Linked DNA regions of Homo sapiens. The protein of the gene in region 1 interacts with the protein of each later gene in a pairwise test. Each region holds a gene or a part of one and is shown in the gene's direction. Other genes may lie near its edges.

What was found.
Region 2: the proteins of MS4A4A (region 1) and SEC22A interact in binary tests that used the Homo sapiens proteins (3 or more experiments, as listed by UniProt).
Region 3: the proteins of MS4A4A (region 1) and CMTM7 interact in a two-hybrid assay, tested with the Homo sapiens proteins (one large-scale study listed by BioGRID and IntAct).

The regions. Positions count from the first base shown.
Region 1 is NC_000011.10:60,297,620-60,301,277, forward strand, and holds part of MS4A4A (membrane-spanning 4-domains subfamily A member 4A), read left to right. Parts: intron 1-3,381; coding exon 3,382-3,438; intron 3,439-3,658.
Region 2 is NC_000003.12:123,222,443-123,226,100, forward strand, and holds part of SEC22A (vesicle-trafficking protein SEC22a), read left to right. Parts: intron 1-1,116; coding exon 1,117-1,280; intron 1,281-2,660; coding exon 2,661-2,855; intron 2,856-3,658. UniProt on the Homo sapiens protein: May be involved in vesicle transport between the ER and the Golgi complex.
Region 3 is NC_000003.12:32,440,295-32,443,952, forward strand, and holds part of CMTM7 (CKLF-like MARVEL transmembrane domain-containing protein 7), read left to right. Parts: intron 1-1,545; coding exon 1,546-1,719; intron 1,720-3,658.

The DNA.
Region 1 (3,658 bases):
GACTAGTGGCTTATCATTTCTAGGATGGCTTCATTCAGTGGTGCAAGGATTTCATCAAGGATTGCTAGCAGACCACATCAGAGGGGAGATGGTTGACACATCCAACTTTTGGTAAATATTTCATATACATATTCCCAAATCAACTGTCAGTAAGGATAACGGACTTGCCATTATTGGCTTGGACTAATCAAGATTTACCTCTGTAGCTGGGAGGAGTCTACCCTACCTTTAGCTCATGAGAAACTGAACAAAATGATGGTTTAGTTAGCAAGGAAGAAGAGGAGATGTGGCTGGTACACAAGCAGTTTCTAATATCTAGTCTACTGACTATCGAAACTCAGGAAATTGTTACCTCAGAAAATGAAAATGTTATTTGATATATTTTGTTTCATAAATTCAATAAAATAACTAATTATTATAATTAATATTAAATTAATTATAACTATTATTAATATTACATTAAAATTAGAATTGGAATTTAAATTTAAAAACCTTCTCCCAAGAGAAAACACAAGATAGTTTTAATGCAAATTGAGAGTAAAATTGAGAATAAAATACCAAGTTTTATCCATTGAAGAGAGAAAAATAAAATTTATAAGTTGGGTTTATGTTAGAATCAGGGAATCTATTCTAGCATTGCAGGGTTTCCATTTATTTCTAAAACTGAGAATGAGGTAGTGTAGAGTTTTATAGAAGAGCTTGCTTTTTGATCCCCTTCACCTGTTTACAGCAGAAGTGCAAGATTGGAAGAACAGTAAAGCTGTGTTTTACTTCTAGAAAGCTGCACAATACTTCATATATCCAAAAATACTGATGCCAATAACAGCTCTTATTAAACTCTTACTATCATGTGGACACTCTACTTAGTGCTTTATATGTGCAATTTCATTTCAAACAATCACCACGAACTTCTGATTTTTCATTATAATCATTTTATGGATGAAGAGAGGTTAAGTAACTAACCCAACATCACAACTGCTTGGTACAGGAATGAAGATTCAAATAGGGTCAATGTATTTTCAGAATTGCATACATCTAACTACTTAGTTTTCTGTTTTTATTTCCGTTTCCTTTTCAAGATCACATTAAAAACCAGCTTACATGGTGCAAGCCTTCCACACATGTTCAGTAGATTACCAGGAACTGCAGGAGCCATTTGTCCGCTGAGACATCACTGAGACTTTCGTAGGTGTTCCATTAGATGAGCCTTTACTTAATTGGTGAACTCTTTTCTGCGGCTACCTTCCATTATTCTTTCAACCTTTTTTTCCAAACCTCTTCTATGAAGTGCCTCCTTTTTCTCTTTCATACAGTATAAGTACCAATACCAAGAACCAGTCACAAGTTCCTCTTATTTTTGGCCTCTTCAGTTCTGTTTCTGTATATGTTTCACATTCCTTGTTTTTTCCTCTGAGATAGTACATACATACTTTTTCCTGTGGCAAATGAAGTCCTCTTATTCAATCCCATCTTCAAATACACAGACATACATACACACTTGTAATGTGTATATATAATTTCTGTATAGAATGTTTTTCCAAGGTGCCTTATTGAATTTTTAGAATAGTTTATGGTAATTTTTAGTTCACGTTCTTGAATGTTTGCAATATATATTGTTCATACTTAAATAAGAATAGTTAAACCACTTGTTCCAACTATTTTTCTTATGTAATTATTTTGGTAAATATACCCAGAATAGTATTACATAATAGTCAGCATCTTTATCTTGATTTTGACTTTAATGAAATGATCCTACATTTTTATCATTAAACATAATAAAGACTTTTAGACTGAGACAGATTTCTATCATGTTACAGAAATTACAATTCTTTTTTTTTTTTTTTTTTTGGTTTTTGGTTTTTGGTTTTTTGAGACAGAGTTTCGCTCTTATTACCCAGGCTGGAGTGCAATGGCACGATCTCGGCTCACTGCAACCTCCGCCTCCCGGGTTCTCACCATTCTCCTGCCTCAGCCTCCCAAGTAGCTGGAACTACAGGCACCCGCCACCACACCCGGCTAATTTTTTTGTATTTTTAGTACAGACGGGGTTTCACTGTGGTCTCGATCTCCTGGTCTCGTGATCCACCCGCCTCAGCCTCCCAAAGTGCTGGGATTACAAGCGTGTGCCACCACGCCCTGCCAATAATTCTTTATATTTTACCAGTAATGTTGCAGTTACTAATAATGTTGAATTGTATTAAATGTCCTAGCCTATCAACACTGTAAACATGAATAGCAATAAGCATGTAATTTTTTTCTTAAATTCATTAATTGTGTAAATTAGAATATTTCAATATTAAAAAATGTTTGTAGAGCTGAAGGAACATCCCAAATGTTCATGATGTATTTTATATCATATGATGGGTGATTCCCTCTAGTGGTTTTATTCCAGTGGTGATTTAGATATCATGAATCATCTCTATGTCTGGGTATTTGGAAGTTAAATAAATTTATTGAGCTTTTTTATTAGTTCTGTATTTTTTATATTATGATATAATCTTTGAATCATCTGAAATCAAATTTGAAAAGCAAATTAAAAACTCCAACAATTGAATATTAAAAGATAGAGAGTCTAACCAACTTGACTAGTTATTTTAGCTAAATGAAAAATAATTGCCTATTGATGGAATCAAATGAACTACTATATTCTAGTCATCATCTAATTGGGAATTTACATTTTTTTGCTACTATTTTGCTTATAAGTTTAAAAATATTGGCCGGGCGCAGTGGCTCACGCCTGTAATCCCAGCACTTTGGGAGGCCGAGGCGGGCGGATCACGAGGTCAGGAGATCAAGACCATCCTGGCTAACACGGTGAAACCCCGTCTCTACTAAAAACACAAAAAATTAGCCCAGCGTAGTGGCGGGCTCCTGTAGTCCCAGCTACTCGGGAGGCTGAGGCAGGAGAATGGCGTGAACCCGGGAGGCGGAGCTTGCAGTGAGCCGAGATTGCCCCACTGCACTCCAGCCTGGGCGACAGAGCGAGACTCCGTCTCAAAAAAAAAAAAAAAAAAAAAAAAAAAATTCTAAATGAGAATAATTTTAGTGTATTTTTTGTTTAAATATAGTCATCAATTTTGGTACCATGTAAGAATTACTTTGTATCAGGAGTTTGGAAACTATCTTTTAGTGCCCTCAAACAGTTTTAATATCATTTCAGTTAGATATTTGAAAAACTTGATAAATTCTCCCATGGATTTATCTGGTATTATTTCTCTGTTCTTTCTGGGAAAAGGGAAAATAATGTGCAAACCTTTGTGGTTTTCTTTAAGATAATTGGTCTGATTAACATATCTATCTAATTTAGAATTAAGTTTAGTAAGTTATGACTCCCAATACTGGCTTAAAGTTTTTTACCTTCATTTTTTCTCTCATTTTTAGTTTATTATTTCAGGATCCTTGTCAATTGCAGCAGGAATTAGAACTACAAAAGGCCTGGTGAGTAATATTTTCTTTTTTTGGTATCAAAAAAAGGAAGGATTAATAAAAAATGTATTCTGCCAGGGTGTAAAACAGGTTTTGTTTCTTTGTTTGTAAAAAATCAGGAGCGATTGTGCATTTTACCTACTAGAATCTGTCTTTCAAAAACTGCAGTCAGGCTAATTGCTGACATAGGACTGGATATTTTGGCAAGGTAGGGAATCTTACGCTTGTGGAG
Region 2 (3,658 bases), on another chromosome or scaffold:
CCCACCTCGGCCTCCCAAAGTGCTGGGATTACAGGCCCCCACCATGCCCGGCCTCTTTAGCTTCTTTTGATTGGCAACATTTCCACATCCTTTATTTCTTTTTTACAACCCTGGCACTTTTAAAGAATACACTTTTTCCTTTTCAAAAATAGAATGTTGATCATTTTGGTGTTTTCTTAATGATTAAATTCAAATTATGCATTCTCAGAATATTATATAGCTGATGTGTCTTTCTCAGGATATAACATCTGGAGACACACAATGTCCATCTAACATGAATGATGTTAGAGAGTACTTGGTGAAGGAGTTACCTAGTTTCTACTGTATAATATTTTCCCCTTGCAACTAAGAAACAATCCATGGAAAGACATTTTAAAACCATGCAAATATACTAACCCGTAAAAATTTCCCCCTAGATTTAACATCCATGATTGTCCTTGCCTGATCCAATCTTTACTATGTTGGTTGCAAAATGCTGATTTTTCCATTGCTAGCACTTCCTCTACGTTTACCAGTCAACACTCAGCATTCTGCTTTAAGCCATAGCCCTCATTTCTCCTTTTGTTTTTTATATAAACTCATAAATTCCCCCCTCCCATGGTTCATAATTAATTACTGTGTAAAGTAGAGGATTTGATTCTGGGGTGTGTCAATGATAACTTCAAGAGGTCAGTGATCACCTTGAAATTGTGTGCAATCTTCTGTGTTCTGGCATCTTTCTAGGGAGAGTGTTCCTGTCATCAGAATCTTGAAAGGGTTCTGGACTCAAAAGTGGAAAACATATTGAAGGGTTAGACTTTAAGCTATCTGTAATACTTACAATACATTTGTATATCCATTCCCCTGCTTTTTACCCCAAGTGATAACTGAAATGTTAGAACCGTATTGTGTGTCCCTCTGTAGTACATTCTATTTTTTGTCTTCTGTTTTTAAACCACAACTTAAAATAGTGCTGTATTTTGGTTCCTTTAAATTTTTTCCTAGAATATATAATAAATGTTAAGATCTTCATTGCCACCGTAGTAGCAGTTTATGGTGTATAGAACCAGTCTTGTGAAGCAGTGAATTACCTTGATTTAATTTGAAATTTTAAAACCAATGTTTTTTACACTGTAGTTTTATTAGCTCTCTGGGAGTGAGCTACATGATGTTGTGCACTGAAAATTACCCAAATGTTCTCGCCTTCTCTTTCCTGGATGAGCTTCAGAAGGAGTTCATTACTACTTATAACATGATGAAGACAAATACTGCTGTCAGACCATACTGTTTCATTGAATTTGGTAAGGGCCTGATTTTTTTTTCCTTTTTATTCTGTCTGCATCCAATCATAAGCAATTTTAAATCTAATATTGGGTGGAGGGGGGACTTCTGCTATCTTGCTTTTGATATAATAATTTGGTAAATGATCTATAAATTATGGTAACTTTTTACTTAGATGCTTATTAGAAAAAAATTGTGTTTGAGCTGTGAAGGGGATTGTGAGTATTGGTCCGAAGAATTAATGCCAGAGGATAACTTCTCAATGAGAAATTTATAAGCCAGAGATTCAGACTTTTGCGTTTCTGTAATAATCTTTTATAGTCTGCTTCATGTAGAATAGGGGATGGCAAACATTTGCTGGAAAGGACCAGATAGTACATATTTTAGACTTTAAGGATCATATAGTCCCTGTCACAACTATTCAGCCCTGCCGTTGTAGCTCGAAAGCAGCCATAGGCAGTACGTAAATGAGTGCAGTTATATTCTAATAAAACTTTACAGAATAGTCAGCAGGCTAGATTTGGCCTGTGGGCAGTAGTTTGCTCAACTTCTGATGTAGAAGAAAAAAAAAAAACACCATGTTGTAAATAGTAAAAATAAAATTCCACTTGGAAAATATTTAGGAAATGTCTTATGTTAGTTTTATTCAATTTATTCTTTAAAACCTACATTCTAATGGTGTAAGCAATAAAAAACAGATTTATAAAAACATGCAACTTCTAGTGTGTGTTCTTATGTAATTGCAGCTGGTAAATCTGACAGATTTAATATTTCATGAGATAGGAATCTCTATAAAAATCAAGACTTTGGGCCAGGTGTGGTGTGGCTCATGCCTTTTATCCCAGCACTTTGGGAGGCCGAGGCAGTAGGATCACTTAAGGCCAGGAGTTCGAGACCACCCTGGGCAACATAGACCCTGTCTGTACAAAAATAAATAAATAAACTGGGCATGGTGGCTCACACCAGTAGCCCCAGCTGCTTGGGAGACTGAGGCAGAAGGATCACTTGAGCACAGGAGTTTGAGGTTACAGTGAGCTATGATTGTACCACTGCACCCCAGTCTAGGTGACAGAGCAAGACCCTGTCTCAAAAAAAAAAATTCAAGACTTTGGTTTAAAGTTAAAGCTGTTTTTTGTTTTTGTAATTTCTTGAAGTGGATGTAATACACTTAGGTAGTGTTAAATCCTTAGTTTATTTAAAATTACTGATTTCTAGAGGGTAAAACTGATGATTCCATGATACATTAATCATTAAACACAAGTAATATTGGACTATTTCATGACGAATTGAACAATTTTGAATAATAAACTACCTGTAATATTTACTATCCATAAACATCATATTCTGAAATGATTAATTGACAAGTGACTGCAAGGAAATTTATTTTTTATTTTACATAGATAACTTCATTCAGAGGACCAAGCAGCGATATAATAATCCCAGGTCTCTTTCAACAAAGATAAATCTTTCTGACATGCAGACGGAAATCAAGCTGAGGCCTCCTTATCAAATTTCCATGTGCGAACTGGGGTCAGCCAATGGAGTCACATCAGCATTTTCTGTTGACTGTAAAGGTGCTGGTAAGATTTCTTCTGGTGAGTTCTGGATCTCAGTTATTTTATTTTAAAAAAATCCTTGGGAAAAACTGAGAAACTCTTGAAAATGAATTACTTTATTCTAATATTTTAAATCAAGTACATGAGAGAATATAGAAGTTCAAAGCAATCCTTTCAGTGATTTATAAAGTAAGCTACCAGATGTGTGACTAATCGGGAAAATACTTTCAAATAGCAACCTCAGAGGATCTCTTTGCTAGAAAAACATTTTTTTAAATTTAAAATTAAAAAAAGTTAATTTTCATGGGTACATATTCGGTGTGTAATATATTTATGGGGTACATGAGATATTTTGATACAGGTATGCAATGTGTAATAATCACATTAGGGTAAATGGGGTATTCATCACCTCAAGCATTTATTATTTCTTTGTGTTATAAACATGTCAGTTGTGCTCTGTTAATTTTTAAATGTACAATAAATTATTGTTGACTGTAGTCACCCTATTGTGGTATCAAGTACTAAATCTTATTCATTTTAGCTAACTATATTATGTACCCATTAACCATCACCCTTTCTCCCACCCCCACTACCCTTCCCATCCTCCAGTAACCAAAATTCTACTCTCTTATCTCCATGAGTTCAGTTGTTTTAAACTTTAGCTCCCACAAATGAGTGAGAATATGTAAACTTTTCTTTTCTGTGTCTAGTTTATTTCAGTTAATAAAATGTCCTCCAGTTCATCCGTGCTGTTGCAAATGATAGGATCTCATTCTTTTTTTATGGCTGAATAATACTCTGTTGTGTATGTGTGCCACATTTTGTTAATCCGTTTGTCTGAT
Region 3 (3,658 bases), on another chromosome or scaffold:
TACTCTGGAGGCTGAGGCAAGAGAATCGCTTGAATCTCGTAGGCAGAGTTGCAGTGAGCCAAGATCATGCTACTGCACTCCAGCCTGGGCAACAGAGTGAGACTCCATCTCAAAAAAAAAAGAATCACTCCTCCATAGGAGAGAGGCAGTGTATAAAATAATCTTTTTTCTAAATTGGTTGTGCATTTTAAATAGATTCCTGGCTGGAAACAATGGCTTACGTCCATAATCCCAGCACTTTGGGAGGCCAAGGCAGGGGGATTGCTTGAGCTCAGGAGTTTGAAACCAGCCTGGGCCACATGGCAAAACCCCGTCTCTACTACAAATATGAAAATTAGCCAGGCATGATGGCACACGCCTGTAATCCTAGCTACTTGAGAAGCTAAGGTGGGAGGATGACTTGAGCCCAGGAAGCAGAGGTTGCAGTGAGCTGAGATTGGTTCACTGCACTCCTGCCTGGGGAACAGAGCCAGACTCTATCTCAGAAAAACAAAAACTAAATAACTAAATAAATAAGTAGATTCTAAGATTTTACACACATTGAATCCCGTGTGTTACTGGTTTGTTCCCTACATGGAGTAGACAGGTTTTCTCTTTGGCCTTCACGGAAGCTCAGACTGTTACTCATTCTACTTTCTTGTACTCATGCATTGCTAATAGTTTTCATCTGGTTATTAATTCAGTAGCAGGCCGTTAAGCATGTTCACTCGTGCTGAGATATTTCTTAGTGAGCTCTCACCACATGCCCTGATGGTGAGCAGCCTCACCTCTTAAACAGGATTCCTGCATGGTTGAGAACCCGTCCACCTTTCTCGGCTTGTTATGATCAGAGCTTACACTTTTGGGAGGTAGAACTGCATCTGACATGGAGGAACATGGTCCTTAGAGTCAGACAGACCTGGATTCAAATCCCACTTCTGCTTACAAGCCAGATAGCCTTGGACTGATGATTGAACCTGCATGCCTCCGTTTCCCCTTATGAACATGGGGATGATTTTGTCTACCTGGCAGGGTTCTGCATGGCCTTAGCGAGATCACGTATGTCAGACATCAGTAAATGGTAACTTGTTATCTGTCAGTTGATAGCTGTAAGGTATGAATTACCATCTTTGTAGGTCAAAAACCATCAAATATTGGCAACTTCGTACAATTGGGCCTAATATGTAAACCCCAGGTCACCATCACGCTGTCCTCTTTGCTCTATGGATATCCAGCAGATGAAAGGGATGGTTCTGCTTTGTTATTTTCTTGTTTTCCTGCTTCTTCTGAGGGGGCTTCCCGCTGGCACAATCTAACAAACTTCAGAGAGGACGAAGTCAGTCTCTGCTGTCATCAGTGTTCACAGACAGTAGTTTCAAAGTGTGTACCACATGAAGTTGCAGTCTTCCAACCTTCCAGCCAGTGTGTATGGAAATAACCTGAATTGTATTAATAGCAGTTCTTCAATGTGGGCCTGCTGGGGGATGCTTGGTTGTTTTCCGTTGTTTGTTCCCTGGGTGCCCGTCTTGGGCAAGCATTTCTCTGATGTCTCTATTTATGTGGCAGGTCACCCTGCTGATTGCCTTCATCTGTGTGCGGAGCTCCCTGTGGACCAACTACAGCGCCTACAGCTACTTTGAAGTGGTCACCATTTGCGACTTGATAATGATCCTCGCCTTTTACCTGGTCCACCTCTTCCGCTTCTACCGCGTGCTCACCTGTATCAGCTGGCCCCTGTCGGTAAGAGAGTGGTCTGGCCCTGTCCTCCGCATGCACAAGTCAGGATGTTAGCTAGAGTACTGAGACCTGACAGAGTTTTTCCCGTCTGCCCATCTCACCTCTTTAACCATTCTTTGCTGCCTCTGCCCTGAATTTCCTATTGTTTGGTGGACATCTCTGCTTGATGTCCTGCTGGTTTTTAAAACTCACTTTCCAGCTACAAGAAGGCTGTGGCTGGCCGGGCGCGGTGGCTCACGCTGGTAATCCCAGCACTTTGGGAGGCTGAGGCGGGCGGATCACGAGGTCAGGAGTTCGAGACCACGGTGAAACCCCGTCTCTACTAAAAAATACAAAAAATCAGCCGGGCGTGGTGGCGGGTGCCTGTAGTCCCAGCTACTCAGAGAGGCTGAGGCAGGAGAATGGCGTGAACCCGGGAGGCGGAGCTTGCAGTGAGCCGAGATCGAGCCACTGCACTCCAGCCTGGGTGACAGAGCGAGACTCCTCTCAAAAAAAAAAAAAAAAAAAAAAAAAAAAAGAAGAAGGCTGTGGCTATTGCCCCATGCTTACTTTCTCAAGCAACAGAGAATGGCTGTGTGTGTATGAGTTGGGAAAAGGAACACGGAAGGAAATTGTAGGTGAAGATGATGGGTATTGATGCTGTTGTGAGGATTGAATGATAGGATTTTCTGGCTAAAAGAGACTAGTGGGGGCTGAGGAGACAGTCAGAAGTTGCCAGACTTTTTCTTCCCACTGTATTATTTTTTAAAGCTTCATTGAGATGCAGTTCATATGCCGTATTGTTCACCCATTTCAAGGGTACAATTCAATGGAGTTTAGTATATTTCCAGAGTTGTCCAACCATTACTACAGTCAACTTGAGAACATTTTCATCATTTCAGAAAGAAATTCCATACCTTTTAGCTGTCACCTCCCTACCACTCATCCCTCCAGTCCTAAGCAATCACTAATCTTCTGTCTCTAAAATTTTTCTACTCTGAACGTCTCATGTAAATGGAATTGTATATGTGGTCTTTTGTAACTGGCATCTTTCACTTAGCTGAATGTTTTCATGGTTCATCCATGTTGTAGCAGGTATCAGTATTTCATTCCTTTTTTTCTTTTTAGAGACAGGGTCTCACTCTGTCACCCAGGCTAGAGTGCAGTGACGTGATCGCGACTCACTGCAGCCTCAACCTCCCAGGCTCAGGTGATCTTCCCACCTCAGCCTCCCGAGTAGCTGAGACTACAGGTGCATGCCACCACACCTGGATAATTTTTGTGTTTTTTTTTTTACAGAGATGAGGTTTCATTGTGTTGCCCAGGCTGGTTTCAAACTCCTGGCCTTAAGCAATCCTCCCACTTTGGCCTCCCAAAGTGCTGGGATTACAGACATGAGCCACCATGCCAGCCTTTTTATAACCAAATTTTATTCCATTGTGTGGATAGACCAGACTGCATTTTGTTTTTCATTCATCTTCAGTGGACCTTTGGGTTGTTTTTACCTTTTGGCTATTATGAATAATGCTGCTATGAGCATTCATATACAAGTTTTTTGTGTGGACATATTTTCATTTTTCTCTGGTATGTATCTAGGAGGGGAATTACTGAGTCATATGGTCACTTTGTGTTTAATTGTTTGAGGAACCGCCAGACTGTATGCCAAAGTGGCTCACTGTTTTACATTCCCACCAGGAGTGTATGAAGGTTCCAGTTTCACAACATCTTTGCCAACACTTATTATCTGACTTTCTGATTCCAGCCATTCTAGTGAGTGTAAAGTGTTATTTCCTGTGGTTTTGATTTTCATTTCTCCAGTGACTAATGATGTTAATCATCTTTTCATGTGCTTTTGGCCATTTGTATATTTTCTTTGAAGAAATGTCTATTCGAGTCCTTTGCCTATTTTTTAATTAGGTTATTTGTCTTTTCATTATTGAGTTGTGAGAATTCCTTCTATAGT